Linked DNA regions of Homo sapiens: regions 1, 2, 4, 5, 6 and 7 are each linked to region 3. The links come from fine-mapping of genetic effects on gene expression. A gene starts in region 3. Each other region holds a variant in brackets. All regions are shown on one strand. Distances are from middle to middle.

Evidence for each region. PIP is the estimated chance that this variant, and not a neighbour inherited with it, causes the effect.
Region 1: its variant is fine-mapped to the expression of STK32C in testis (GTEx, PIP 0.92).
Region 2: its variant is fine-mapped to the expression of STK32C in whole blood (TOPMed, PIP above 0.99). The same link has a PIP of 0.9 or more in NK cells, blood mononuclear cells and naive CD8 T cells.
Region 4: its variant is fine-mapped to the expression of STK32C in whole blood (TOPMed, PIP above 0.99).
Region 5: its variant is fine-mapped to the expression of STK32C in whole blood (INTERVAL, PIP 0.98).
Region 6: its variant is fine-mapped to the expression of STK32C in pancreas (GTEx, PIP above 0.99).
Region 7: its variant is fine-mapped to the expression of STK32C in whole blood (TOPMed, PIP 0.99).

Annotation. Positions count from the first base shown.
Region 1 is chr10:132,327,989-132,332,042 of GRCh38, forward strand. It overlaps a transcript of STK32C not described here and a transcript of LRRC27 not described here. Among named protein-coding and RNA genes, the nearest start is that of LRRC27, 2.2 kb to the right of the region's middle. RefSeq lists an enhancer at 3,488-4,022 and a silencer at 3,907-4,026. The variant C/T (reference allele first, on the strand shown) is at 2,524.
Region 2 is chr10:132,253,973-132,258,036 of GRCh38, forward strand. The region is part of intron 1 of STK32C (serine/threonine kinase 32C); the gene reads right to left. Among named protein-coding and RNA genes, the nearest start is that of STK32C, 52 kb to the right of the region's middle. RefSeq lists enhancers at 281-782, 783-1,282. The variant A/G (reference allele first, on the strand shown) is at 1,655.
Region 3 is chr10:132,306,164-132,310,227 of GRCh38, forward strand. STK32C (serine/threonine kinase 32C) reads right to left here and starts at 1,787. Exons shown (of 12, transcript NM_173575.4): 1 at 1,409-1,787. The coding sequence starts at 1,670. RefSeq lists a silencer at 1,611-2,260 and enhancers at 2,513-3,057, 3,058-3,600.
Region 4 is chr10:132,223,932-132,227,995 of GRCh38, forward strand. It overlaps STK32C (serine/threonine kinase 32C), which reads right to left. Exons shown (of 12, transcript NM_173575.4): 3 at 4,046-4,064; 4 at 2,864-3,037; 5 at 1,816-1,853; 6 at 1,596-1,685; 7 at 1,302-1,405; 8 at 476-592. Among named protein-coding and RNA genes, the nearest start is that of DPYSL4, 39 kb to the left of the region's middle. The variant A/G (reference allele first, on the strand shown) is at 2,456.
Region 5 is chr10:132,230,395-132,234,458 of GRCh38, forward strand. All of the region lies in intron 2 of STK32C (serine/threonine kinase 32C), which reads right to left. Among named protein-coding and RNA genes, the nearest start is that of DPYSL4, 45 kb to the left of the region's middle. The variant C/A (reference allele first, on the strand shown) is at 1,777.
Region 6 is chr10:132,363,687-132,367,750 of GRCh38, forward strand. LRRC27 (leucine rich repeat containing 27) reads left to right here. Exons shown (of 11, transcript NM_030626.3): 10 at 1,738-1,864. Among named protein-coding and RNA genes, the nearest start is that of PWWP2B, 31 kb to the right of the region's middle. The variant G/A (reference allele first, on the strand shown) is at 2,041.
Region 7 is chr10:132,372,904-132,376,967 of GRCh38, forward strand. LRRC27 (leucine rich repeat containing 27) reads left to right here. Exons shown (of 11, transcript NM_030626.3): 11 at 2,163-4,064. The coding sequence ends at 2,339. Among named protein-coding and RNA genes, the nearest start is that of PWWP2B, 22 kb to the right of the region's middle. The variant G/A (reference allele first, on the strand shown) is at 2,467.

The sequences.
Region 1 (4,054 bases), 22 kb after region 3:
CGCTGAAAACCAGGGCTGGAATAAGTCTCTTGCCTCTGTAACTGCCCTATGGGTTCACCTTGCCTGCTGCCTAGACAGAGCCCATTTACCAAGACAGGGGAATTGCAATGGAGAAAGAGTAATTAACGCAGAGCGGGCTGTGCAGGAGACCGGAGTTCTACTATTATTACTCAGTCAGTCTCCCTGCGCATTCTGGGATCAGAGTTTTTAAAGATAATTGGGAGGGTGGGGCTTTGGGACATGAGGAGTGCTGATTGGTCAGGTTGGAGATGGACTCATAGGGGGTCGAAGTGAGGTTTCCTTGCTGTTTTCTGCTCCTGGGTGGGTGCCCGAACTGCCGGAGCGAGATTACAGGTCTGGGTGGTGTCGGCTGATCTGTGGAGTGCAGGGTTTGCAAAATATCTCAAGCTCTGATCTTGGGTTTTACAATAGTGATGTTATACCCAGGAGCAATTTGGGGAGGTTTAGACTCTTGGAGCCAGAGGCTGCAGGACCCCTAACCTGTAATGTCTAATATTGTACCTAATTTGTTAGTCCTGCAAAGGCAGATTGGTCCCTGGGCAAGAAGGGGGTATTTTCGGGAAAGGGCTATTACCCATTTTGTTTCAGAGTCAAACCATGAACTGAATTCCTTCCCAAGGTTAGTTTGGCCTATGCCCAGGAATGAACAAGGACAGCTTAAAAGTTAGAAGCAAGATGGAATCGGTTAGGTCTGATCTCTTTCACTGTCATAATTTCCTCAGTTATAATTTTGCAAAGGCGGTTTCACTTCCATGAAAGGAATGTGAAAAAACATACAACTTCTGCAGCGATATCTGGAGATGGAGACGAGGACAGCCTTCGGCCCAGCCTCTTGCTGGCTCCAGGACTGGATCTACAGTTCCCAACGGCAAGGCCAGGCAAGCACCCAAGCATGACCCCAAAAGGCTGGACGGAGGCTCCTGCCAGAGCATGACACACAGTGAATACTCAGGGAAACAGAACATAAGCCCCCTCTGCAGAAGCCTGCAAGCCTAGATTTCAAAACACAGGACTCCAAGAAGACAGATAACAGTATCAGCCATCAACTGGTAAATTCCGCCCAGGGGAGATGAAAACAATAAAGCACAGTTTAAAATAAATGTGTCTACCCCGGGCAGTGGCTCAGGACTGGCAGTGGCTCACGCCTATAATCCCAGCACTTTGGGAGGCTGAGGCAGGTGGATGGCTTGAGCTCAGGAGTTCGAGACCAGCCTGGGCAACATGGTAAAACCCGTCTCTACAAAAAATACAAAAATTAGCCCAGTGTGGTGGCACATGCCTGTAGTCTCAGCTACTTGAGGGGTTGAGGTGGGAGGATTGCTTGAATCTGGGAGGCAAAGGCTACAGTGAGCCGAGATCACACCGCTGAACTCCAGCCTGGGTGACAGACTGAGACCCTGTCTCAAAAAATAAATAAAATAAATAAATAGAGGTGTTTGGGATTCTCATGGTAGATAAAGAAAGAAAACAGCCGTGAACATTAAAAACAGATTATAAAACAAAAACTGGAAGAAATTAGACACAAAAAAGAAAATTAGAAATAGAGACCAATGCGGTTTTATTTAAAAACTCAACAGATTAAACAAACTAATTGGATGGAGACAGAACTAGTAAACTGGAAGATCGTAAACTGAGAACACAGAGACCAATACTGGGAAGCGCAGTTTGAGAGATGGAGAAGACACTGAATGGGTGCAAGCTACTCCCTTTTAGGAGATCCAGAACAAGAATTATGTCAGGGTGCAGAGGTGCCACGGGAGGACAGATGGCCGGGAAGGGCTGGGAACTGAAACTTAGCTATCTCAGGTGAGAAGACACGGCCAGCGCCAGGCAACACAGCCAAACCAACTTATACTCAGAAATACCACAGCGAAATTTCAGAACAAAGACATGAAAAGAGAAGATAGATTTCCTTCATGGAAGTAGCAATGCCACGGGCAGCAAACTTCTCGGCAGGGTAGCAGCAGTCGCTGCCCGGAGGAAGGTCCTAAAATCAAGACAGGAAATGACTCAACAAGGAACGCGGCACCAGCTCCACAGCCACTCAATAATCAGATCAACACGAACACTTCATTCGTTCCTACGTTGGGAGGCTCACCCAAGAATACTTGCCAAAAGGCTACCAATGGATACAATCTGGCTGGGCAAAAACTGAGCACAGTAAAGGGCAAAACATGCTCGTACATACAATTAACTACTGACTACAAAAATTAATGTAGCATGAAAAATGTGAAACAAAAACCTGAGGCAACAATAACAAGCAAGAGGGAATACGCTCAAATGGTTAGTAAATGTTTTATTTGTGAAAAGAGATACTGGAATGCTGAAACTTGTTAGAAATAGCATCGTGCTGAAATCTTCCATCCCCTTCGCCACTCACGGCAACACCCATGTCACTCCTCATTCTCTCCTTGCTCTGCCCGGGTGGCTGGCCTCCCCACGCTCCTGAGAAGGTACTGGTTGTGCTTTCAGCTTCCTGATTGGTAGATAGTTGGGTATGTA[C/T]GAAAACTTTTTTTTTGAGACAGGGTCTCGCTGTCACCGAAGCTGACATTAAGTGGCACAATCATAACTCACTGCAGCCTCAAAATCCTAGGTTCAAGCGATCCTCTTGCCTCACCCTCCCACACAGCTGGAACTACAGGTGTGTGCCACCACACCCAGCATTTTTTTTTTTTTTTTTTTTTAATTTTTGTAGAGACTGGGTTGCCCAGGCTGGTCTCCAACTCCTGGCCTCAAGCGATCTTCCCACCCTGGCCTCCCAAAGTGCTAGGGTTACAGGCGTGAGCCATCGTGTCCGGCCTAAAAAACATTTCTTACTGTGATCTCTTCACAAAAATAAAACGTAAATCCCCTCAAAGTGGATAGTCGTTTCTCCACATAATTATGTCGTTTCCTTTAAAAAGTGGAATCAGGCCGGGCACGGTGGCTCATGCCTGTAATCCCAGCACTTTGGGAGGCCGAGGGGGGCGGATCATGAGGTCAGGAGATCGAGACCAGCCTGGCCAACATGATGAAACCCCGTCTCTACTAAAAATACAAAAATTAGCTGGACGTGGTGGCGCGCGCCTGTAGTCCCAGCTACTGGGGAGGCTGAGGCAGGAGAATTGCTTGAACCTGGGAGGCGGAGGTCGCAGTGGGCCGAGATCGCGCTACTGCACTCCAGCCTGGGAGACAAAGCAAGACTCCACCTCAAAAAAAAAAAAAAAAAAAAAAAAGTGAAATCATGGCAGACTCCAGCTAAACTGTCCGGGTTTCCAGAGTGTTTCTGGGTGGGACAGAGGGTGCTACTTTTCATTATCAGTTGGATCCTGGAATGAAGGTGCACGGGACTCCAGGGTTCCACAGGACCACGCGAGCACCTCCCCTCCCGCCCGGTGTCATTTCATCTTCTTCCAAATTCTCAAAACCCTTCCTCAGGACACTCACTGCGTTTCCTCGCCCCCCTCACTCCTCCGTCCAGAGGCAGCCTTACTTCTCCAAAGAGGACGCTCTGAGTCTGCGTTCCCCTGGCAGCAAGTCCTGAGGCAAGATTTGGGGACAAGCAGCTCCTGTGGGAAGTGGCTCCAGGAAGCCCCAGGAGAGACGCGGGGAGTGAGCCCAGCGGGAAGGACAGGCAGCGAGGACCGCTCCAAAGGTGGTGCCTCAGCAGCAATTCTTTTCTGCTCGGCTGTCCTCGAGCAGCCCCGCCCGCCCCGGGCCCTCCGGCTCCCCAGACGGCACTTAGCATCCCGCTCTCTTCCTTCCCCTCTGTGCCAGGCCGGTCGCCCCTCCAGACCCTCGCGGTCTCTACTTGCCCGTCGACCACCACCCCTTCAAGGCCGCGGGCGCGGAAAAACGGATGCTACCGTTGGCCGCGTGCGTGCGCAGGCGCACCACCCCCTGCCACCCCCGCGCAGGCGCACCACAACCCCCCCACCGCAAGCGCAACCCCCCGCCCCAGCGCAGGCGCACCACACCCCGCCCCCTCCCGGGCAGGCGCACCACACCCGACCCCCTGCCGCGCAGGGGCACCCACACCCCGCCCCCGCACGCA
Region 2 (4,064 bases), 52 kb before region 3:
TGTTAGGAAAGCCCAAAGCCTCAGTGGAGTTTCAGGTTAAAACCTAGTCTTTTCAGGCAGGGCGCGGTGGCTCATGCCTGTAATCCCAGCACTTAGGGAGGCCGAGGCAGGTGGATCACGAGGTCAGGAGATCGAGACCATCCTTGCCAACATGGTGAAACCCCGTCTCTACTAAAAATACAAAAAATTAGCCAGGCATAGTGGCGGGCGCCTGTAATCCCAGCTACTCAGGAGGCTGAGGCAGGAGAACGGCATGAACCCGGGAGGCAGAGGTTGCAGTGAGCCAAGATCGCGCCTCTGCACTCCAGCCTGGGCAAAAAGGGCGAAACTCCATCAGGGGAGAAAAAAACAACAAAAAAAAATAGCCTTTTCATAAGCCAGGGCTTGTATCAAAACTGGTAAGAAAATACTCCCAATGAGGACAGCAAAAGAAGAGAGGAGAGTAAAATAAGCCTGCCGCAGGGCGCCGGGAATCAGCACTATGTCACCCCGGCACAATGCGTGCACCCTCCACGAAGGCTGCCCCCAGACCTGGGAGCCCAGGAGAGTAAAATAAGCCTGCCGCAGGGTGCCGGGAGTCAGCACTATGTCACCCCGGCACAATGCGTGCACCCTCCACGAAGGCTGCCCCCAGACCTGGGAGCCCAGGAGAGTAAAATAAGCCTGCCGCAGGGCGCCGGGAATCAGCACTATGTCACCCCGGCACAATGCGTGCACCCTCCACGAAGGCTGCCCCCAGACCTGGGAGCCCAGGAGAGTAAAATAAGCCTGCCGCAGGGCGCCGGGAATCAGCACTATGTCACCCCGGCACAATGCGTGCACCCCACGCGAAGGCTGTCTCAAGAGCTGGAGAATCAGCTCTGCTCCTGACACCCCAGGTCCCCTCTTGATGTCTTTGGAGGCCCGGGAAGTGGGTGCTGGACAGTTTCAGAGCTGCCACGTGGTGGATGAGCTGCCCACAGCTGCAGGCGTGTCCCAGGCCTGGGACGCTTCCCTTCACAGCCCACCCCACCCACTCATCCGGAAGAGGCCCCCACGTCCAAGTGTCCTCAGGCAGAACCAGCCCGTTCACCAATGGGAGGATTGCACAGCAGAAGTGGGCACTACTGTGAGAGCTGTCACAAAGATCAAATGTCACACGTGGTTGAAACACACGCAGAAGTTGATTAAATGCCGTCTCGTCTCCTATGACCTGGGAAGTGCTTATGATGAGGAAAATCATCCCCCAGGACTCCGAGACGCAGGCCCCGCAGAGCTTGTGCAGCCTCTGGGGATGTCTGGCCCACACGGGGCTCCTGACTTAGGAAATACCGGGCCAGGTGGAAGAGTTGGAACCGGCCCGATAGCTCCTCCTGGCAATGGGTGCCCCCCACTCCCACTCCTCAGGTGCCCTGGCCCGCTAGGTCAACAGGAACCACAGGAGTCACCAGACATCACCTCACAGACCCCTCACCCTCTTGCCATGGCCTGCGGGAACAAAGACCCACCACGCTGACGGGCAGGGTTGACGCAGATGGGGACAAGACAGGTGGGGGCTAGAGACAGGCATGAGAGCCGCTGGGCAGGGGTGAGGAGGCTCCCGAGTTACAGCGGAGAACATAGAGCAGAAGCGTCCAGCCACAGCAGCACCCAGGAGAGGAGCAGGGGGCCCTGC[A/G]GGAAGCAGGTCCCTCAACCCTTGCTGAGCCCCACGCGGTTTCCTGCACCACTGAGGATGTGTTGAAACCCCAGGGCAGGAAGGTCAGAGATCAGGAGAGGGGATGAGGGTGTGGGTGCCGGCCTCTGACCCTGGACTCCTCAGTCCAGAGGGGGCCTGGAGCCTCGAGGTCATGCCTGGGTGCCAGCACCATGGCCCAGCATTACGTGCGCTGCCCACGCATCTCCGAGGGCCCAGCTGGCCACCTTCTCCTTCTCCACCGTCCCCTCACCCAGGGGCAGACCCCCATGACCAGCAGCCTGCAGCCTCTGCACACCCTGGAGCCCTGGTGTCCAGCTTGGACTCGCCCGGGTGGCTTGGCGGCTTCCCGGCATCCCTGGGCAGCTCCGGGACAGGGCTCTGTCCTCAGCTGGCACCACCACCCTTCCAGCCTCGGGGAGCCAACTGGGGTCTTACTCTGGGAACATACCCTGTGCCCCAGGCTCCATCTTGGCAGCGATGCCCTCACCCTGTCTTTTCTGTGAAACAGACACAGCCAGGATGTGGCAGCAGCCCACAGCTGAGTCCTGTGGGGCCCCTGGGCTCCGAAACAATTGTGGCTTCTCCTGCCCAGGTACACACCCAGAGCCCGGGGTCCTGGTGCCTACACCTCCAGCAGGACCCTGTTGGCGGCAGCATTCTTGCCATCTCCCTCCCCCACCTTAATTGCAGTGAAAGCTTCCACCCATAAAACAGGCTCAGTGGCAGCTTCCCAGGCCAGCACTGTGGATCCTGGTCCTGTCTGGTCTGAAATTGTCTGGAATCATGTTCCGGTGTTTAATATCGACATCCTCAGACAACACGGGGATCTGCCATAAATGAGTGATTAGGGCAACCGCCTGATCAATACAGTATCTCCGGGTGGCAGAGGCTCAGGCCTGAGACCGCAGTGCCTGAGACCGCAGGAGTCGCCCACGGCAGCAGGGACCTGGGCTCCTCCAGCTCCCCAAACCGCTGGAGAGGTGGGCAGCAGCACCTCCCCCCAGGCTGCCTAGAGGGGTCCTACTGTCCAAGGCCCGGCCCCACCCACCCCTGCCTCTCACTGCGCAGGGCCCAGCACCCCAGGACCACCCACAGGGGCAGACCTGGAGGACTCCAAGGCCGCCTGGCCCTGCAGCAGCTGAGAAGCCTGCTCCTGGGGCTGCCCGCCCAGAGGCACAGATGCTTGGGGACCCCGGAGCTGCAATGGAGACAGCCCTGACTCGGGGTGGGGCTTGGGGTTCCTCCTGAGTCCTGAACCCTGAGGCAGGTGTGCCTAGCCAGTGGGGGGGACGCTGGCCACAGCAGCAGCAGCACTGGATGAGGGGGAGCGAGCCCAGTGGGATCCCAGGGCTGGGGATCAAAGCAGAACAGCCCAGGAAGGAGCCCTGGCCAGGAGCAGATGGATGGGCAGGGCCCTGTGTCCTGGGGTGTGGCTGCACCAAGGGCCACACTCAGGGCTCGCTGTGGGACCAGCTGGGGGCTGCCCATGAGGCTGGGTCCTCAGGGGGGTGAGGCCTGTGGATACAGGACATGCCCTGAAAGACCCCAGAGGTCAGTGTGTTCAGAGGCCAGCACGAGATGGGTAGGTGTGTGGGTGGGTCAAGGCTGGAAAAAGCCCTGTCCACGTGTCTGTCCTTCCATCCTCCCACCTGCAGCCCCTGGGGTCCTGCACAGCCCTCCCACACCCGTGCCACTGTCTCCCACAGAGGGAGACGGAGGGGCTCCTAGGAAGAGGTGGCTCCTGGCAGCCACAGGCCCCTAGGCCAGCGGGCTGTGGTCATTCAGGGTGCCTGAGAGCTCCCAGGGAGAGGGGCAGAGCTGGAGGAGGAGTGACTCAGAGCAGGGAGGGAGCATCACACCCCCCAGCCAAAGAGATGGGCGGGGCGGAGCTGCGAAGGAGTGGGTGGCAGGATGCTGCCTGTTCTGGCACAGAAAGCCACATCACCCCTGTCCACCCCATCTGGTGCCCACCCCCTGCTGCCGGCCCCCTGCCCTGCCCTCTCTCTGCCTCTGTCCCCAGGGGCGCCCACTGTGAGCCAATGATGGCAATCCCAGGCCTGACACCCCCACAATCCTCCCCCCAACCCCCACCCTCCACCAGGCCCCTCTGCAGACACTAGGAGGGGGCCCCAGAACCAAACACCCCCAGGGGACCCATCAGCTGCCCTGGGCTGGGGGCTCCTCTACACCTGCAGGTGGGACTCAGGGCTCTCGAGCCTCCACTGTGCAGCCTGCCTGAGGCCCAAAGGAGGCCGCGGCCCAGCAGGCCCCTGAAAGCCACAGGCCCTGACATGGGCTGCAAAGACCAGCAAGGCTCTCCTCAGTGCACGGACTCCACCTGCCCCGGGAAATCGGTCAGGACGAAGGGCTCCATGTCCCAAGTGCCCTC
Region 3 (4,064 bases):
ACCCCCGGAGAGCACGGTGCCGAGACCCAGAAGAGCAGCCAGCTCTTGGCTGACACCAGCAAGTGCTAAACCAGATGCGTTTCTCAGACGTTCTCTCAACCCGCAGCCAGAAACGAGAGGCAAATCTGCCTCCTGATCAGCTCCTAGTTCACTCTGGGCTTTCTTTACTTTGAATATTTATGTTAAAAACAAAAACATTTCTCAAACATTCACCATCGTGAGTTCTGCTGTCCCGAAGTTCAGGACACAGTGACGGGCCACCCTGGAGCGTGTGGGGCCTGGTGTGGCTGGGCCTTCAGCCCTCCTTCTAGGCAGCACACCATGAATCCCCGGTGCCGTCTCCCGGAGGAACGGCGGTGCACGGCCCCACACTCACCAACGCCGGCCTGAGGTCGTATTACTGTAATTTCCCATAATGCTTAAATTATTTATCGCAAGTAAATAGCCTGGCTCCTGAGCGCTGGGCTCTAAAATTTTGAAGGATCCATCATACCTCTGCACGCTATCTATAAATGAAAAATGCACATTTCAAGTATTTTAAGAAAATGTCAAAAAACATGAAATGTGTCATCAATGTACGATTTTAAATGATTTGCATGTTACCTGTAGAAAAGAGCTGTATGTCTGCATGTGACTGTATTACAGTGCCCACAGGCAGACGCGGCACCACATCTCCCTGCAGGTGATAATTCGGGGGTCCCCGGGGCCCCCTGGCACCCCGGGAGGTGTCCCTGCAGGCCTGTCCCATGTCACCTCACCTGCCTTCTCTGCTTTCTATGGCGCCCACGGCTGCACGGTCACTCAGGAGACACCAGTCCCCGGGGTTGGCGGCTTTATCTACAGGACTCAGCAGCGCACTCGTTCCTGGCAGGGCAGGTCTTTGCACAACGGCCTGGCCCTGCCTCCAGCGCACATGGGTGAGCAGAGGATGGACACCGCGCGGTCACCAAGGAGACTGAGCCTCTGAGCGGCCGGGCCCCGCCACCTGTGGGGCAGGAGCCTCACTCGCACTCGGGCGGCACAGGTGAGCGCCTCTCTAACTGCAAAGTACAAACGAGCCCGCACGTGGGCCCGAGCGGATCACGGAAAGCGGAAAGCAGGGCTGCCACGGGCGGTGGGCGGAGGCGCGCGCAAGCCCGGAGACGCCACAGCCGCGGGGGACCCTCGCCCCGAGGGCCCGGGCCCAGCCTGCTCCTCCTGCGGCGCCGCCACTAGAAACGGAGGACGCGGGCGGGCGCCCAGAACTCGCGTGGGGCCGCAGCCACCCGGCGCGAGCTTCTCCGGAAGCCGGGGCGCCCCGGGAAGCCGTCCCGGACACCGGGGGAACCCCTGCGGGAAAAAGCCGCCCAGCCGCGCCCGCCCCTGCAATAGCGCGCGGCCCCCACGTCGTCCCCGTGCCCGCACTCACCGTCCTCCTTGTCGTCAAACACCGGCCTCCGCGCGGTGGCCGCCGACATGGACGAGCCCATCCTCTTCTTCCACTTGCTCCACTGAAACAGGGGGCGCGGCTGCGAGCGGACATCGCCCGAGTCCCGGGCCCGGGGCTGGCCAGCAGCGGGCGGCGGCAGGGCCGAGGGCGCGTCGGAGCCGGCGGGGCGCGCGCGGCCGGGGGGCGGCGAGCCCGGGGACGCCGCGGCGCTGCTGCCCCTGCGCTCGGCGCCACTCCTCATCGCCGGGTCTGGGTGCGCGCGGCAGCCGGAACTCGGGGCATGGCCGGCCGGCAGGGCCGGGAGCGGCAGTGGTAGCGGGAGCGCTCGGGGCCGGCAGCGCCCGCCGTGCGCTCTTCTGGGCGGTGGAACCCGCCCCGTAGATTGCGAGCGCTGGGGGCGGGGCAGGGGCGGGGCTTCTGGAAGGGGCGGGGGCGGGGCGGAGCTCCTGGAAGGGGTCGAGGCGGAGCTGAGCGCCGGGGCGTGGCAGGTGCGGAGCTTCGGGAAGGGTAGGGGCGGGGCCGAGCCGGGGGCGGGGCAGGGGCGGGGCTAGTGCCTGGAGTGTCGCTAGGGAGTGGGTGGCCGCCACCAGTCTAGGGATGGGGGCTGTGGTTCGCCGGGACACGGGGACCACGGCTCAGACTAGACGGCGGGTACGAGAGCGAGGGAGGCAGGGAGCGTCCCCACGGGTATCCTGGGGCCCCGGAGGTCGGCGTCCCTGGCACGGGGACTGCTGTGCCCGGCACGGCGGCGGGACCTTCTCGCGGTCTCCGGGGGCCTCCCTCCCCTGCCTTCTTCGTGAAAACAGCCGGCGCGCGGGCTTCCGCCGCCCAGTGCGGGGAGCCCTAAACTCCAGCCTTCTGCTTTGCGCAGGGTGAGGCCGGGCTGCAGGCCCGGGATGCGGGCGGCGGGAATCTGCCGGGCAGAGCCCGGCTCACGGTCAGGAGGCGGCAGGCTGAGTCCAAGCGCTGCGCCAGAGGGTGGGGTGGGGCAGGGCGGGCCTGGCTGCGCGCGCGCACACGCGGGCGCCTGGGGTGGGCGCTAAGCCCTGAGCACGTGCGCCCGCGCTCTCGGGCACCCCCGTGCCATCCTCGCGACCCCCGTCCGGCCTGAGACCGCGTGCCCGAGTCGCCCAGGGTCCCCTTGTCCAGATGCGACAGGGGCCTCGGCACTCGGCGTATTTCGGAGGCCTGGGGCGCGGCTTGACCTCCGGGCACCTCTGCCCCTGCGCAGGGCCAGGCGCGACCTTGCGCGGAAAGTGCTGGGCGCCTTGGAGTGCCCTGGAGAAGGCGCGGCTCTGCATGGAGCCTCGCCGCCTGCCCCTGGCGCTTGTCACTGAAGAATCAGTTTTTGCTACCGGGCTGTTTGACTTTAGGAAGCCTTTACCTCCTTAAGTTCTGCCCTGTAACCAGGACACAAAGACGGGGTCTCTTCCTCCTCGGTGAAATCCTAGATGGGATTTCCTGCTGCCCGCCCGGACGATGAGCGGATCCCCAACATGGCTCCAAGGCCAGTGTCTCCCGCTCCCGTCCCTCCCACCGCACACAACTGTCTACCCTGTCATTCAGCCACTGTGAGCCCTGCCTCCCCACGGCCTTTGACATTCAGTGTGGCCGCCCGCCCTAACCGCCTGATGCATGAAATGTGAGCACGGGAAGTCTGTGTGGCTTCTGGGCCAACAGGAGCCCCCATCCCTTGGGGACTATAAGGAATGGAACCATGCCCATCTACCTAGGACATGCACCCGCCTGGACATGCACCCGCCTGGACATGCACCCGCCTAGGACATGCACCCACCTGGACATGCACCCGCTTAGGACACATGGCATGCATTTCACTACTGAGATTTAGAGGGTATTTTTATGGCAGCATAACCTAGGTTACCTGACCAACCAGCCACCGCAGCTCTCCCTGCCTGGCTAGCACAAACGCATCGGTCTCTAACTTCCAGTGCACAGAGCCGAGTTTTCAGCCCTTGCAGCTGCGAAGCTCTGTTCCCTGCTCTCCCTCAAAGTTGCCATTCTCCAGCAGGCACGCAGAAGGCAGTGGGTTCAGCACCTGCCTCAGAGGAAGCCCTCGGTGCCCATCCCAGCAGGAGTGGTGAAGGAGCGTTTGGAAGGGGAGGTACCAAGGCAGGGCAGTGCCTGGAACCCTGCGTACCCGGTGCACACATCAGACTCCCCAGGGCTCCTCCCAAAACACGCAGCCTCTGAACTTACATCATCGCCTCTCCTCCTCTCCCTCTGACCCCTAAAAGTGGCAGAAAAGGAATAAAAGATATAACGTCCCCACCACCACCTAAGAGGGAACAGGAGAAGGGAAGACATGTTAATAGACTTCAGACAGCAGGTAGAAAGCTGACTCTGAAGATTGGAGAGGCTGAGGACCTGCAGGTAACCAGGACCCCAAAAGGCGGGAGAATGTGAATACAGCCAGAGCCCAGGACGCCTCCCCGGCCCGGGCAGTTGGGGATGGACAGTCCTCTGGTCTGAGGGTCCAAAGGGGCTCTTGACCTAGGGATACCAAGTCCTGCAGAAGACAAGAGTGCAGGGGGGCAGAGGGGTTCATGGGGACATCTGCACACTTAACTAGGAGACCCTCCAACCTCACCCTTGCTGTGAGCCTCAAACACCAAGC
Region 4 (4,064 bases), 82 kb before region 3:
CTGCCAGGCTGATGTCCCCTGAGAGGTGTTTGCAGTGGGCAGTGGCTGCCCACCTTCCCCAGGAGGCACTGGGGCAAAGGGTCCCGGAGATAGCATGGGCTTGAACCCACCCACCCGACACCCTCCTTCCAATACGTGGGACAAGGGGACGTGGCTCAGGGCTCCTCTGTGGTGACCGGCAGGGCGGGCGCACAAGCCTGCTGTGAGGGTGCCTGGAGACGCAGCTCAGGGGATCACCAGGACACCAGTGACCTGGTAGGGCTCGCCATGAGAGGGCCACAGAGCCTGCCACCAGCTCGCTTCCTGGGGCTTGGGGCTGCCATCTGCGGAGGCCCCCACAGGTTGCAGTGAAGGGATCTGTGCCTGCCAGGAAGCGGCACTAACTGTGCACTGGAGGGGGTGTCCCGAGCCGCAGGTAAGTGAGGGAGGGAGGTGGGTGCTCGGAGGGTGAGGAGGCTCAGGGATGGGGGCTCACCTTCCGCAGCAAGGCCACCATCTCCTTGGACCACGTGGGGACATACTGGACGCTCACGGTGCTGAACAGCTGCACCAGGGACTCCACGGCGTTGCTGGAGTGGATGTCATAGGGCCTCTGGAGACAGGGAGGCAGTGCTGGGCAGGTCCTCCTGGCCCCCAGGACACCCAGAACAATGCCAGACACAGGTGCCATCGCCCTGAGAGGACCCCCTCCCCCCACCCCAAGTGCAGGCACAGCTCTGAGCACAGCCTGGCCTCCACCTGCCGCGGAGGAGCCTGGGTGAGATAAAGCTTACGCCTGGGTCCTGCGCCCTGGCTGCTGCGCCCATCTGGCTGGGATCCCAGGGGGCCTGGGTCCAGGTAGATCAGCCCCAGAGGGCCAGGAGGGAGCTGGCTTCCTCAGAGGTGGGGTCCTGTGCAGGGCTGAGGGGTACGGTCCACAAGAGGACCCCCAGCCTCCCGGTCTCCAGGACTGGCCTCGCCGTGGCCACAAGGGTAAGAGCACAGGGCCCCAAAAGAAACTTTTTGTGGAAAGTTCCGAGGCAGCACCCCTGCTGGCCAGTTCTCAGCCTTGTCCACCCCCACAGAGGCTGGCCTGCAGGCACCAGCAGCGGCCCCGGGAAACCACAGTGAGTCTGTCCTTCCTCCTCCTGCTCAGGCATTCCATCACCAACTACACACTTCGATAAAAGCGTGACTCCTCAGACACAGTGGAGACATCCCTGCGCACCTGGACACTGGGGCAGCCACCCCCTCCCCAGCACTGGTGGGGGCAGAGAGCAGGGGCCTGGCAGCCAAGCCCAGGGGCTGCAGGGGGTCCATACCCATCCTCGCAGCAGCTCATAGGCCATCACCCCCACCGACCACCAGTCCACCTCGAAGGAGTAGCCGGTCCCGCCGTTGACAAAAGAGTGGAAGATCTCCGGAGCTTTCCGACAGAAAGAAGGAAAAACAGCTGCCACGGGGTCACAGCCCGGACCCGTGGGCACAGGGCCGGCACCTTGAGGCCACATCCCGAGACCAGGCTGCCTCCAGGGTGGGACAGAGAAGCCACCGAGGTCTTGTCCTTCCCACCTGGAGGAAGCCAGCTCCCATCTGGAACCCCAGCTCGGGCTCACCCATGTACGGCTTGGTGCCTGCTAATGCCGTCGCCCGCTCCCCGTCCTTGATGATGGTGGCAATGTTGAAGTCGGTCAGGTGTGCATGTCCTGTGCAGAGAGGGGTCAGGTGTGGCTGTCCCAGGACCAGAGATGCATCCTTGCGTGCAGGATCCTCCTCCCCTGACAGGCCCATCCCTGCCACCACCCACCTGGGCTGCCCACACCCAACCCCACACACCTCTCTCATCCAGGAGAATGTTGTCAGGCTTGACATCTCTAGAAAGAGCAGAAAGTGGGAAGGTGAGTTGGGAATCTGCCCTGTTTCTGCCCTGGAATCTCTGTCACAATCCCTGGAGTCCCCAGGACATCCCACCAACCCACTCGAGGCAGAGGCCTGGGAGCTTGACTTGGTCCTTGGATGATGCTAGGACCTCACACCCCTGCGTGGGGGCAGAGGCGATGAAGTCAGCCACTTCGTTCCCTGTGGCATCTGGGCAGCAGCACACACCTGGCACCAGATGCTGGGAGGGGGCCTGGAGCCCCAGAGGACGAGAGCAATTGCTGGCAGGGTCTGCCCTCCCCCTCCAAGACTCGGCCTCTAGGAGACCAAGCCACCTCGGCTCTTGCTTTGTCCCAACTTTTCCAGGTACACAGCCAGTGCTCAGTGACTGGTGCCTAGGTCATAATCAGACATCCGAGTCCCCAAGAGCAGAAATGCAAACACCAGTCCATTCGACTTTAAAATATACCTCACAGATATTTTCATTTTGTTCCATTGCTGCGGAATTTCAGCCTAATTTCTGCTTCCCAATTTCACTTCCTTCATAATCTGCTTCCTATTTTCTTTTTTTAAATTTTATTTTCAGAGCCATCACACC[A/G]GCTCTGCTTCCTAATTTCATCTGCTTTAAGCTAATGTTAAAATTAGTTTGGATTCCCTGGGATGTGGTGGATGGGCAAACAGGAGCCTTCAGTTAAATGGACCAGGTGAAGGCCACCTGCTGTGACCCAGCCTGGTGGTCTGTCCACCAGGGCTAACAGCCCACTGTGCCCAGTCTCAGCTGGGGCTGCTGGGACGAGGTCCCCCCAGATGGACACCAGGCACACAGCTATGGGGCTGACCTGGTCGGCACAGGTGCCACAGCTGGGGGCAGGCACTCAGGCAAGGGTGGGGCAGAGGAGCTAGACCCGCTCTGAGGGAGTACGGCCGCCGTGCCGGCAGCCTGACCTAAGGCTGCTTCAGCCCCGCCCACCTCAGCAGGTACCTGCGCCGTCTGCCACGCACACACCTGTGGATGATGTGCTGGCCGCGCAGGTAGTCCAGAGCCAGTGCCATCTCGCAGATGTACAGCCTCACCGTGTCCTCGGAGAACTGCACGTTCTGCTGCAGGTGGTAGCGCAGGTCCCCGCCCAGTAGCAGGTCCACGACCATGAACATGTCCTCCTCGTCCTGGAAGGAGTACCTGTGGGCACCGATGGAAGGCCTGTTGTGCGCACAGCTGGGGAGCCAGTCATGGCTGCTCCCACAGCTGACACACTCCCCCTAAGGACCACAGCCCCACCCCAGCATCAGCCACCAGGCATTCCCAGGAGGAGGGGCCTGCCCAAGGCACTGATTGCACCCCAGCCCAGAGCAGCTCTGAGCCCAGATCCTGAGGAAAGACACACCACCCTGTGCTGGAGGTGGCCCAGCTGGGGCCAGAGGCACCTGGGAGTGGCAAATGCAGAGCAGAGCTACAGTGCCAGCTCCGGGTGCTTCAGGCTGCCCGGCCTCCTCTTCGGTAAAATGGGGATACAGACATTTGCCTCGGAGGGTTGTTACAGAAAATGAGGCCGTGTAGGTACCACTCTTGACAGTGTTGGGCAAAGAGCTGGCATTTAACAACCAGCATCCATGGTGTTGACGATGGCAGTGATGGTGGTGGTGGTGACGGTGATGGTGAGGATGACGGTAGTGAGGACTGAGGGTGGTGGTGATGGTGATAACAGTGATTGTGGTCGTGGTGGTGGTGGTAATGGTGGTGACAATAGTGATTGTGTTGATTATAGTGATGACGGTGATGAGAGTGATGATGGTTGCAGTGGTGATGGTGGTGGTGATGGCGATGATGGTGGTGATGGTGATGGTGATGACAGTGGTGAGTTTTTCAGTCCCTAAACTCTCTCCCTCTCTGACTAGTGCCAGAGACTCCATGGGAGCACATCTCCATTGTAGGGAAGCCCTGGTCTTCCGGCAGGCTCAGAAGAGACACTGCATTAACCAACCCCAGCATGTCATGGCCACCTGGGCCACTGCCAGGCCTGGGGCACAGGAAGGGGGATAGATGAGGAGGGCTAGAGAGGGCCTGTGGGTGGCAGAGGCATCTCCGAGGCACGAGGGCCAAGGAGCACCAAGGGCAGGAGAGGATAGCCAGTGCCTTCCCGGCTTCAGGACGGTAAGTCTTTCTGCAGCGAGGCCATGGCAGGCTCACCAGAGGTTCACCAGGAAGA
Region 5 (4,064 bases), 76 kb before region 3:
GGATGGAAGCCCCAGCCTCACTCTGCACAGGCGCAGAAGCAACGGTGCTTTCCTGCGCCAGCCCCAGCACCCGCGGCCTCCTGCAGACGGTCACTGCAGGCTCAAGGCGGCCACTGCAGGTCTGGAAACTGCTCCAGAAAGGCTGTTTGTTGCCCTGGGGCTGGGACCAGACAGGCTGTGAGACAAATATGGTGGAAAATCCGGCCCTCACCCTCTGCCCCTCAGGAGCCTGGCTTGGGGCCACTGGCTGGGGCCAGGGCTCTTGCTGCTGGGGGGGAAGCTGGCGGGGGGGGGGGGGCTGCAGAGCCCACCTCTGCCTGGAGCGGCGCCAGCACCCGCAGCCCAAGGCCGTCTTCAGCCGGTCCCAAGCCTCAGGCTTTCTGTCGCTTGTGCACCACCCCAGAAAGCTGCCTGCCCAGGCGACCCAACCCTCTCCAGGCTCCCTCTGCCCCTCCTGCTCACGATGCAGCTCAGCTCTTACGGGGGAATCTCTGGAAGAACACGCCTTCCCTTGGGGTGCTCAACCCCCACAGCCCACTCACCAGGGGACAGGGCACCTGGGCTTCCCGTGCCCTCTGGGCCCTGTCACATGTGCGGCGGACACAGACCGGGTGTCTACTCCAGACAGGACCTCACCCTCCTGCCAGACAGGCTCACCCAGGACCACCCGCTTTCCCAAGCATGTGGCCTGGGCTCCATCTGGGACCAGCCCCTTGGCCCTGTGACCCAAGCCTGCTCTCCCCGTCACACGCATCCCATCACCCACAGCCAGGGAGCAGGGACAGAAGAGCCACCTCGAGACAGGGCCTGGCCTCGCACACCCACGGCTCTGCTGTCCACCAGAACAAAGCAGCAGATCCACTTGCCTCCAGCCTGTTACCCCACCTGGGAAACAAACTGCCTGGATGGTGGAGCCATCAGCCACAGTCCAAGCCCCTGGCCTGGCCCTGTGGGAGGAGCTGCCCTGAGGAGCAAGGGGAGGCAGGGTTACACTCAGGTCTCCCGAGTCTTTGGGCTCTGTGTCCTGGAACATTCTCAGCTCAACTGCAGTTCAAGAAAAGCTTGCAAGTCTTCCTATATGCCAGCCCCATGCAAGGTACTGGCAGTGCAGGGTGAGTGGCCATGGTGCCTCCCTGGAGACCCTGGTGGAAACGCCTCGATCCCTCACAGCAGGCCCGAGTGCGTCCCCAAAAGACACAGCCACCAGGAGCCTCGGAATGTGGCCTTATTCGGAATAAAGGTCTCTGAAGATGTAATTAAGTTGAGGATCTGGAGGTCCTGAATTGGGATGGGCCCTAAAGCCAATGATAGACACCCTGATAAAAGACAGAAAAGAGAAGATGACGCAGGCATGGGGGCGAGGGAGTGTGAAGGTGGAGCAGAGGCAGTGATGTGAAGATGCCAGCCTGGGAATGGAGTGACATGGCGGCAAGCTGAGGACACCACGAGTGGCCAGCAGCCACCAGACGCCGGGAGAAGGCACAGCGGGTCCTCCCACGGAGCCGCCCAGAGGGCCCACCCTGCCAGGTCTCAGGCTTCCCATCTCCAGGACTACAAGAGAAACTTCTGTTGTTTGCAGACACTGAGCTACGGAACTTGGTTGTGGCGGGAAACTCGCTTTCTCCACGCCTCCTGTGTCTCTGCATCCCTGATAACACCCTGCAGACTCTGAGCACCTGCGGCCACGCCTGCAGGCAGCAGCCTCACCTGCGCTCACGCTGCGCCCTCACCGGAGCACCTGCCAACCCAGCAGCCCACTTCCCCTAATCTCCTTCA[C/A]CATTTTCTGACCCAGGCCAGCAGGTGGGGAGCCTGTCCTGCCCCTTATCACTAGGACCCGCCCTCTGAGGCCTGGACTGTCAGGCACGTTGAAGGTGGTTTGGGGTGGTGTGGGGTTTTCCGTTGAAATGGATTTGATTAAGTCAATCACATCAAAGTGCTCTTAGGTGAAGACAACAGAGAAGAGGGCGGGTCCGGCAGGCTCCCTCGGGCCCCTGATGCAGGAGGCTCCAACGAGCGGTGGCGTAAAGCCCTGGGTTTGGTGCAGTCTCTGTCTGGAGGGACCTCAGCACCCGAGATCACGCAGAGCAGTGTTTACAAAAAAGACTGGAAACCGGCGGCCTTTTATGACCAGGCCTGGGGGGCTGAGGGCAGGCAGGTCCGACTCAAACGCTTCCTCCAGGAAACTGGTCCCTGCTTTCCCAGCCGCTTCCTCCAATCACCAACTTAAGCCCAAAGAGAAAATGGAGTTTGAGGTCTCACCACAAAGAGGAACAAGCCAACCCCGGGCTCCGGAGCCCTGGGCTTTTCCTATGAAACGCCACTGATGGGGAGGCCACAACGCCACCCGGAGCCCTGGGCTTTTCCTATGAAACGCCACTGACGGGGAGGCCACAGCGCCACCCGGAGCCCTGGGCTTTTCCTATGAAACGCCACTGACGGGGAGGCCACAGCGCCACCCGGAACAGGCTGGTGCCTGCAGCCATGTGACTGCCAATTCAACCAAATGCTGTTTATGCATTTGGCAGATTTAAGTGATTCACCCAAGCTCTTTCTCTTTCCAAGTAATTTTTGTTCCCCAGAAGCAAATGCCTGACCACAAGTACCTAAGGCCTCTAAACGGTATAATGAAACCACCTCCTAATCCTTCCTGGGGGAGCTTCTGGTGTCCCAAGGAGAAGTAGAGCCTGGGGACGTGGGGACAGCAGGGCGGGACAGGGCAAGGCAGGCTCCCTCCCAGGGTTCAGTGCTGGGTACCACAAAAACGGGAGGGTCAGTGCCCAGGACGGGGCTGGAGAAGGTGTCTGCAGCGGCTGAAGAAGGTGCAGCCCAGTATGGGGCCTCTGGGGAGGGCACTGGAGGCAGAGGGGTCCCCCAGGCAGAACCGGGCTCCCGTGCACTCCAGAGGCAGTTCCATCTCTCACTCTCCTCCTGCCCCTCCTGAGACCCCCCTGAAGCTGTTCTCTTGACGTCCCTGAGAAGCTGTGTCCCATAGGCCACTTGTCCCAGGTCCCTCTCCCTGGATGAGCTCAGGATTCTAACGCGGTGAGTGGGAATCCGTTTTGGGGTTTCAGTTTTCCCCCGATGCCTAGTGGCTGCTTCCTAGGCCATGGCTGGTGAAGTTAAGACGCCTCACGAGGCCACAAACCTCTCAAGAAGAGGTGGACCCTGGCAAGCTCACCAAGGGGCCTGGGTGGCGGCTGTAGTGGCCATGCTGCGATGGCACCACCTGGCACTGAGGCTCTTGTTCCATCCACTGCAGATGGCAGAGGGGGGTCTTTGTCCCAAGAGGCTGGGAACCCCCCATGCCCTATGGCTGTCAGGTGTTGGTGGCCAGGCAGGGGCACTCAGCCCACCGGCTTCCCAGGGGACGGAGCTACCTCCCAGGCCCACACGCGCTCCCGCCTAAAGCCCTTGTTTAGTCAGAACATTGCCGTGGGGCTAAGGCACACAGTTGCTGCGACTGCAGGATGGCCCCTTCGGCAACAGCTGCCTCCCCTCAGCTGCTTCATGCTGGCTGGAGCCTTACTGGGCTTGGAAGAGCAGATGGGCTGGGGCGCCGTCTGAGTCCTCGCCACTGTGGAACTACTATGGACATACTGTTTTCTGGTGCTTGCATGCAAGCGATCGTTCCGATGAGGTCTGGGATTCTTGGCTATCTTCAAACAGAGCTTGGAGATGCTGCTCCTGAGTGGCTGAGAACCTGTGGCCTCGTGGACTCTCCCACTTGGGGATAACCAAGGCTCTTAACACCTTGCCTGGCTACTCCCAGCTCTCCTCGCCCTGGGATCGAGGACCTGTGTGCAGGATGTGCATAATCCGTGATCCATCTTGAGGGCCACCCTCCATGCTGCCCGAGCTTGACAGCCGCTTCCAAGGGAGCTCTGCCGCTGTTTCTCCCTTGTGTCCTCCTGACACTTCCCGATGCATCCCCGAGTTCTGGGAGGCACCTCCACGTCCCTTCCTCTTCTGCCACATTCCCATGCCTTGCCACGGTCCCCTCTGAAACAGCGGGGGTTCCTCCAGCAGGTTTGCCCACTTCGCTTTTTCTGCCTTGCCCTGCTGCT
Region 6 (4,064 bases), 58 kb after region 3:
GCCTGAGCTTGGAAGGCCCAGGGCCTGGCCCCGGCCCTGCTGCTCAGCGTACGTCTGCCAGGGGGCTCCCCACTCAGTTTAACGTACCCTGGATCCCGGCTGCGATGTAAGAAACCTGGAGGAAGGGTGAGGTGGGATGAGATGTGGGTGACAAAGGGCATGTTCTGTTCCTGCAGAATTTGTTCCTCCTGGAGGCTGACAGTGTTTAGGGAAAATCTCGAAGGCCAACTAGGTTGTATTAACTCCCCAACCTCGTGAAAATGGCTTAGACTAAAACCATTTCGTCTCAAACATTTGAATGTTCTCTTACATCCTCCAGGGAGTTTACCTGCCATATTTGGCCTTTAAAAAGCCCACAGCAGACCACAGTGGCCCGCTAACCCCCCATCACCCTGGGCACAGTAAAAGCTGGAGTCTGAGGCGCTGACACAGGGCATGCCCTGACCTGAGGGCTCTGTTCTGTAGAACTCCAGAGGACATCATGCTTTCTTTTCCATAGTTACTCTGAAAAGCAAGCAAAACCGGCACAAACCCTGCTGCTGGGAGTAAGAGGGTCTTCGGAGAGGCTGAGTGAGACTGTGTGCCATTGTATTCACAGTGGCGCATGCACCCACGCCCGCACCAACACCCACACCACACCCATGACCACACCCACACTTAATCTACCTCCACACCCGCGCTTACACCCACCCACACTTACACCCACCCTTACATCTACCTCCACACCCGCGCTTACACCCACGCTTACATCTACCTCCACACCCACACTCACACCCACCCACACTTACACCCACCCACACTTACACCCACCCTTACATCTACCTCCACACTCGCACTTACACCCACACTTAAATCTACCTCCACACCCACACTTACACCCACGTCCACACCCTGGGGCCCCACACTCAGGCAGTCCGCGTCCACGCTTACATCTACCTCCACGCCCACACTTAACACCCACCCACACTTACATCTACCTGCACACCCACGCTTACACCCACGTCCACACCGTGGGGCCCCACACTCATGCAGTCCGCGTCCACACTTACATCTACCTCCACGCCCACACTTACACTCATGCTTACATCTACCTCCACGCCCACACTCACACCCACCCACACTTACACCCACCCTTACATCTACCTCCACGCCCACACCCTGGGGCCCCACACTCACGCAGACTGGAGTGGACCCCGCCACCCCACAGCTCACCTGCAGCAGATCCCCAGCTCTTTCTACCACCCTGAGTCATTGTCTTTAAAATTAAAGGAACCCCAAACCCCTGAGCCCCAGTGCTAACAGAAAATATGTTTAAAATCATAATTGAATACACTTTTCTGTTTGTCTGTTTAAGGATTTAGGAAAACCGTGTATTCCATGTGGGAACAGAAACCTGCTTTTCCCTTCATGTGGTGCAGTGTGCAGTGTCCTAAATGTGTCATATCTTAAATCAATTTGAGGTTTTTAAATAAGAATAGTGTGTGTTCTGGCAGCTTCTGAACTACTGAAGAAGGGATGGGAGAGGCAGCCCAGGCCCCCCGGCGTGAGTCTGGAGGAGAGTGGGTGCCGGGGAGGCCCAGGGCAGCGCCACAGTAACTGGCACAGCTGTGCGGGAGCCTCAGGACCGCTGTTTGGTCTGGGAAGAAAGGCACATGCTTTCTCCCTGGTTATGGCGGGAGTTGCTAGGATGAGAGTAAATGTGTCAAGTCATTTCCCTCTTTGCCCTTTGTTTCTCAGTGCCCTGCAGGAGAGAAATTTAGAAGAGAAGATAAAACAGCACGTCCTCCAAATGCGTGAGCAAAGAAGATTCCATGGCCAGGCCCCACTGGAGGAGATGAGGAAGGCTGCCGAGGATCTGGAAATTGTAAGGATTTCTTGGTTCTGTTTAAAAAAGTGTGGGGTGTTTTTTGTTTTGTTTTGTTTTTGTTTTTTTGAGACAGAGTCTTGTTCTGTCACCCAGGCTGGAGTGCGGTGGCACAATCTCGGCTCCCTGCAGCCTCCACCTCCCAGGTTCAAGCGATTCTCCTGCCTCAGCCTCCC[G/A]AGTAGCTGGGACAAGTGTACACCACCATGCCCGGCTAATTTTTGTATTTTTAATAGAGATAGGGTTTTGCCATGTTGGCCAGCCTTGTCTCGAACTCCTGGCCTCAAGTGATCCACCTGCCTTGGCCTCCCAAATTGCTGGGCCACTGTGCACAGCCTAAAACATTGTTTTATTAAAAATAAAGAGAACTCACTGTGCCTCTTCAGAGCATGCGCTCTCTAAAACCGTGGGACTGTGTGGAATGTGTCTTATGAGGTGTAGAAATTCCCAGAATTACAGTTGGTCACATGAGAAGGAAAACATTTCAGCCGAGGGGCTGAGCCCTCAAATGTGCCAGGCCACATGGCGGGCCTTGGCATCTCAGCACTGGGAATCTGATGGCAGGAGTGGCAGCCTGCTGACAGGGACTGGGAACCAGTCCTCTCCACATGTCTGTGGGGTCCTTGCTTGAGGTTTTGCACCCAGCTGATCCAGGCTGTGGGCCCAGGGCTGGGCCATGAGGGGCGTCACTGCAGAGAGGGGTCTGGCTGAGGCCACCGGACCATGGCTGACACGCTCGGTGTCTATGTAGGGAGGCCGATATTCATGGGGATCCAAGGCCTCCTGACCAGGAGCCTCCTAAGCAGAACTGCTCACGGAAGTGGCTCCTATATATTTGGAATGTTAACCATCCTCTCAGCCACCGCCAGTGCTGTTTATTCACTCAGCATACGCTGATGCCCACCTCCTGGTACTTGGAGTATCCTGGGCTGTGGGAGAGACGCAGGAATGAAGGAAAGTGCTTTGCTGCCCGAACTGCTGCCTGGCCAGCCCATCCAGCTGTAGAAGGACACAGCTGCTGTCCCTGGCAGTGAACCTGGATACCCGTGTCCCCACCCTTCCTGCAGCCATAAGGATTCTGGCCTGTCCTCTCAAGCTACCCAAGGCCCCTGGCTGGTGGCCTCTTCCAGGTCAGTGTACCATGCCCGAACACAGGTCAGGCTGGTGCGAGCTGCATCGGGGCTGCCCCCAGAGCACGCAGCACTGTCACGGGGGAGGAAGCAACCCTGGCCTTCCTGTCCCCACACCCCATCTGCAGGCTCCATTCCCACCATTTCCGCTGTTTCCCTCTCTCCTAGAGCCGGAGATGGGAGAGAGGAGGCATGAGGGCAGGATGTGGAGCCACTTCATGGAGACCCCACCCAACCTGACTCGGACCCCACTTCTGAGACTCTTTTCCTCCTCAGCCCAAGGAGTTTGTATCTGCCTTTAGATAAACTCTTATTCTTTCTAAATCCATCGTTTATGAGTATGACCTTGTCCTTGGACACCCAAACCCTGCCTCTTAGGGCTGCAAAACATCTGTGTCTTAACCCATCACTTCACATTAGGGACACAAAAGTCGATTTGGTATTATGAACAACTCTAGCCACAGATTTGATAAATTTAGTGAAATAGATTAATCCCTTGAAAGACAACATCTGCCAAAACTTACAGAAGAAATGAATATGCTTGTATCTATTACAGGAATTCAATCAATAATTAATTACCTTCCAAAACAGAAATCACAGGCCCAGAAGTGTTCACTGGTGAATTCTACCAAACATTTAAGGTTTAAGGAAGAAACTATACCAATTCTCGATAATCTCTTCCAGAAGACAGAAACAGAGAGAAAACTTTTTAGCTCATTCTCTGAGGCCAGCATTACTCTAATACCAAAACCATACAAAGATATTACAAGAAAGGAAAAGTGTAGACCAATATCGCTCATGAATGTAGACGCAAAAATTCTCAACATTCAGAAATCAAATCCAGCAATGTGTAAAAGCAATCACACACCCTAATTCAACGTTCAAAAATCAGCCAATGCAATTCATCACATCAGTAAGCTAAACAAGAAAAATCAGTTGGTTTTATCAATAGATGCAGAAAAAGCATCTGACAAAATATAACACCTATCATGATAAAAACTCTCAGCAAACTAGGATAAGCTGAGAACTTCCTCAACTTGTTAAAGAACATCCAGAAAAGACTTACAGCTAAC
Region 7 (4,064 bases), 67 kb after region 3:
TCAGCCTCGTTCCAGGGCCTCAGTCACGAGAGGTTCCTCAGCTGTTGAGGGAAGCCCCAAGGTGAGGGAGAGGCCAAAGCCAGCCGGCTGGGGAGCGAGCTTCGAATGGATGCGAACATTAGGGGACACTTAAAAATGACAAGCCAGAATTAAAATCCCCCCGTAGGAATAGACAAGTCTGCTGCCATGAAACCCAGCAAGCTGTTGTAGAAAGTGAACACTCAGGTAACCCAGAAGAACTCCCAAGGCAAAGTTTAATATGTGGCAAAAAATTTAAAAAATTAAATTAGTAGATGAATAAATCCCCCAGGAAGGGGAGGTGGGAAACAGATGGGACAAGAGGAAAGGAAGTTAGAGGACGACCTGAGCAGAGCGAAGCATCCGGCAGGTTCCGGCAGGTTCCAGCAGGAGAGACGAGAGCAGACGGAGGGAGAAGGTGCAGGAGGGCTCGTCACAAAGGAACCAACGTGCTTCCTGCTAGAAGGGCCCACACATGCCGGCACCATGGCTCAGCATCCCGAACCAGAGCAGGACGGACCCACGGAGATTCCAGGGAGGGCGGGGGGAGAGGATCACACAGAACCAGGCACTGGGAGGGAGCTGGTCGCGGTGATGGCACTGCCCTCAGCAGGCGCCGGGATTCGGTACTCCCATTGCAAGGTCAGGGGTCAGCACACAATAAGACGTTTTCAGATACGCAAAGACTCAAAATGCTGCTTCCCATCTAGAGAGTCTTTCTCCAGAAGCTACTGTAGAATTTGTTCTATCAAAACAAGGGAGTAGATGCTGAGAGAGGAAGGTAAGAGTTCCAGAAGAAAGGGAGCTGACCCAGAAGCCCCCGGCCGCCCCCTACTGTGAGAGGAGCCTGGCGGGGTCTCCACAGGGAGACCAGGTCAGTCTGAGGACTTGGCCAGTGGAGGAGGATGTCGAGAGAGGTTTACAGTTTGAGAGGATGTAATGACAGATGTAGAAAACAAACATTTTAAAAGGAGGCAGTTATGAATCCCACAGGGAATACAGGTTTCTATGGGAAGCAAAATTCGTTATCAATGACTACTTACTGGGTCAGTAACAAGTAACATTGACCAAGTCGCAGAGCTGAGCCGTGAGTGCTGCTCTAGCCCACAGTTACGATATGGGGGCGGGGGAGGCTGCAGGGGTCTCCGGGGACCTGTTGTGATATGGCTGCATGGTGAGGGGGTGCAGTGGCTCCAGGGACCTGCTGTGATTATGGCTGCATGGTGAGGGGGTGCAGTGGCTCCAGGGACCTGCTGTGATATGGCTGCATGGTGAGGGGGTGCAGTGGCTCCAGGGACCTGCTGTGATTATGTCTGTATGGGGCGGGGAGGCTGCAGGGGTCTCCTGGGACCTGCACTGGAGGTAGTGTCCAACCTGTGCCCCCAGCAAGGCAAGCCGGGGAGGGAGACGGGAGCCGGGTGGCCCAGGGCTCCTGTGCTTGGAGTGGGGGAGGTTGGGACTCTGCAGAGGGCCTGAGGGGCAGGAACGGGAAGATCCCCTCCTCAGTTTATCCACCTGAGGGCCCCCCGCAGTGCCCTCCTCAGCCTCACTTTGTTCTGCCCAGGGGATTGGCCGTGGACCATGAGGTTTGGAACAGAAAGCCTGCCCCTGGTTTCACGCTCAGCAAGTTCCTTCTCCTGTAGGAACCCCTGATCCACAGCTTCTGTGTCTGTGGGGTGGGGGTGGCAATTGTGGCCCCATCTGCTTCCCAGGACAGTTACGGCTCTAAGGTGTGGTCTTGGCTGTGGTGATGCTTGCCAAGACACTGCCCGGGGTGTGGCATCAGCCTTCCCTTTGCCCACAGGACGATGCCCTGAGTCTCTGTTCATCCATTGACCTGTGCAGATGCACAGGACACCTGGGTGGGGCCGTGGGGACACCAGGATGAGTGGCCATGTGTGTGCCTGCAGAGGGTGGTGTCCTCATGAGGTAGAAGGCCTGGGAGCCGGCTGGAAGTAGGCTGCTGGGCCCCATTGCAGGGGGGACCGCGCCGTGATGCGGCTTGCAGGGGCCCCGGGGCAGCGGGGCTGGCTCTGCTGACGCCCACATGGCCTGGGCCCCACGTGGAATCTGAGCCAGAGACGTGGTGACGCCCTAAGTCCTGCCAGCCTTTCTAACATCTCCCCCTCCTTGTCTCCCATAAGGCCACAGAGCTACAGGATGAAGTATTGAAGCTAAAATTGGGATTAACCTTGAACAAAGATCGTCGACGGGCGGCCCTCACTGGAAACCTTTCGCTTGGCCTGCCGGCAGCACAGCCTCAAAATACATTTTTTAACACAAAATATGGAGAATCAGGAAATGTTCGCAGATACCAGTGACACCAGGTGGCTGGACTGATGGAGACGTCTTCAGACAGGAGCCGCTCAGTCTTCTTTCCCGGGCGTCGCCTCCTGTGTGGTGCCGGAAGAGCGCCAGGTTCAGTGTTACCCTGAGGGCTGATTTCGC[G/A]CAGCCTGTTGTTTTCCTTAGACAGGTCCACGTCCCTCTCCTGAGGCTGTGGAAGATTTCAGCCGTATTAAAAGAAAGGACACTGTGAGCACGTGGTCTCGCCTTCCCTTCTTCCTGCAGGTTCCCGCCAAGCCATGTGACAGAGTGCTCACACTCAGGCACTTGCCTCTCTCCTGTCCTGGAGCCCTTGTTACAAAAGTACTCACAGCTTTCCTTCACTTAGTTATTTGAGTGTGGGAGAGGAGACCAGGTCACCCGATTCCCGCCAAGCCGGAAGTCCCTGCAGCACCACCTTTGGCTAGGAGGGAGGGGTGACAGCCAAAAAGGGCTTCGGGGGAGTGGTTACCCTGCTCCCTGCCCAGTGACAAGCCCTCCTTTCCCCTGGGGGCCCTCCTTTCCCCTGCTCCCTGCCCAGCTACGGGGCCCTCCTTTCAGCCTTGACCCCTTCCTGGTTGCTACCACTCAGGCTGCCACTCAGTGGACTCCACCCCAGGGACACGGCAGGGTCTGCAGACCTCCCCATGCTAGATCAGCCGTATTTCATGCTCTGTCTGCCCAGGCTGTGTAGATTCTGTGTGACTTAGTCTCTTGTGCTGAGTGTTTGCTTGGATCTTGAAAACATCTTTGGTTTGATTTCTTTAACAGAGGTGAGACTATTCAGACTTTGTTTATTTTTGTGTTAATTTTGGTAAATATGGTTTCAGTGAGTTTCCTCATTTCATCCAAGTTGTGCAATGTATCAGCATAAAGTTCCTCTTATTTTCAGTATCTTTAGGATCCGTAATAATGTCCCCTCTTTTATTCTTGACCTGGTGTTCTTCATCATTCTTGCTATGGATTTATCAATTTTGTTCCTCTTTTCCAAAAGCCCCAGGTTTTGGCTTCACTGGATTTGCTGTTTGTCTTCTGTCTCATGGGTCTCTGCGCCCTGCACTTCGTACTTTCCGAGAGTTTAACTGGTGCTTAGAGAGAAATGCATCACTTCCAAACCCATGTATTAGAGAAGAAGGGCGTGAAATTTATCACCTAAGCTTTCCATTCAGGAAGCTAGAAAAGGTGTCAGTGACCTGTTGCGGCCCAGCGGCTGGAGCAGCAGACGTTTGCCATTTCTCACGCCTGAGGGCAGGCGTTGGAGCAGCTCAGCCGGCGTTGCTGGTCAGGGTCTCCCGTGAGGCTGGAGTCAGCCGTGGGTTGAGCTGCTCTCCTCTGAAGGTTTAACTGGGCTTGGGGCTCAGCTTCCAAGGTGCTCACCTGGTTGTTGATCAGAGAGCGTGTCCGTTGTGATCCCAGTCCTTTGAAACTGTGAAGCCTCGCCCCGCGGCCTGCCGCAGGATATGTTTTGGTAAATGTAGACTGTGCACTTGAGAAGAATGTATTTTGAGTTGTTGGGTACATTGTTTTGTGTGTGTCAGGTGACATTGACTAATCCTGTTGCTCAGAGCTCCTGTACCCTTACTGACTGACTTAAGCCTGGTTTCTCAGTTACTGAGAGAGGCCTGTGAACAGTTCTAGCTATGATCATGAACATGTGTTTTCTTCTTAGTTATGTGAGTTTTTGCTATACGTGTTTTGGGGCTATTTTGTCAGATGCCTACAAA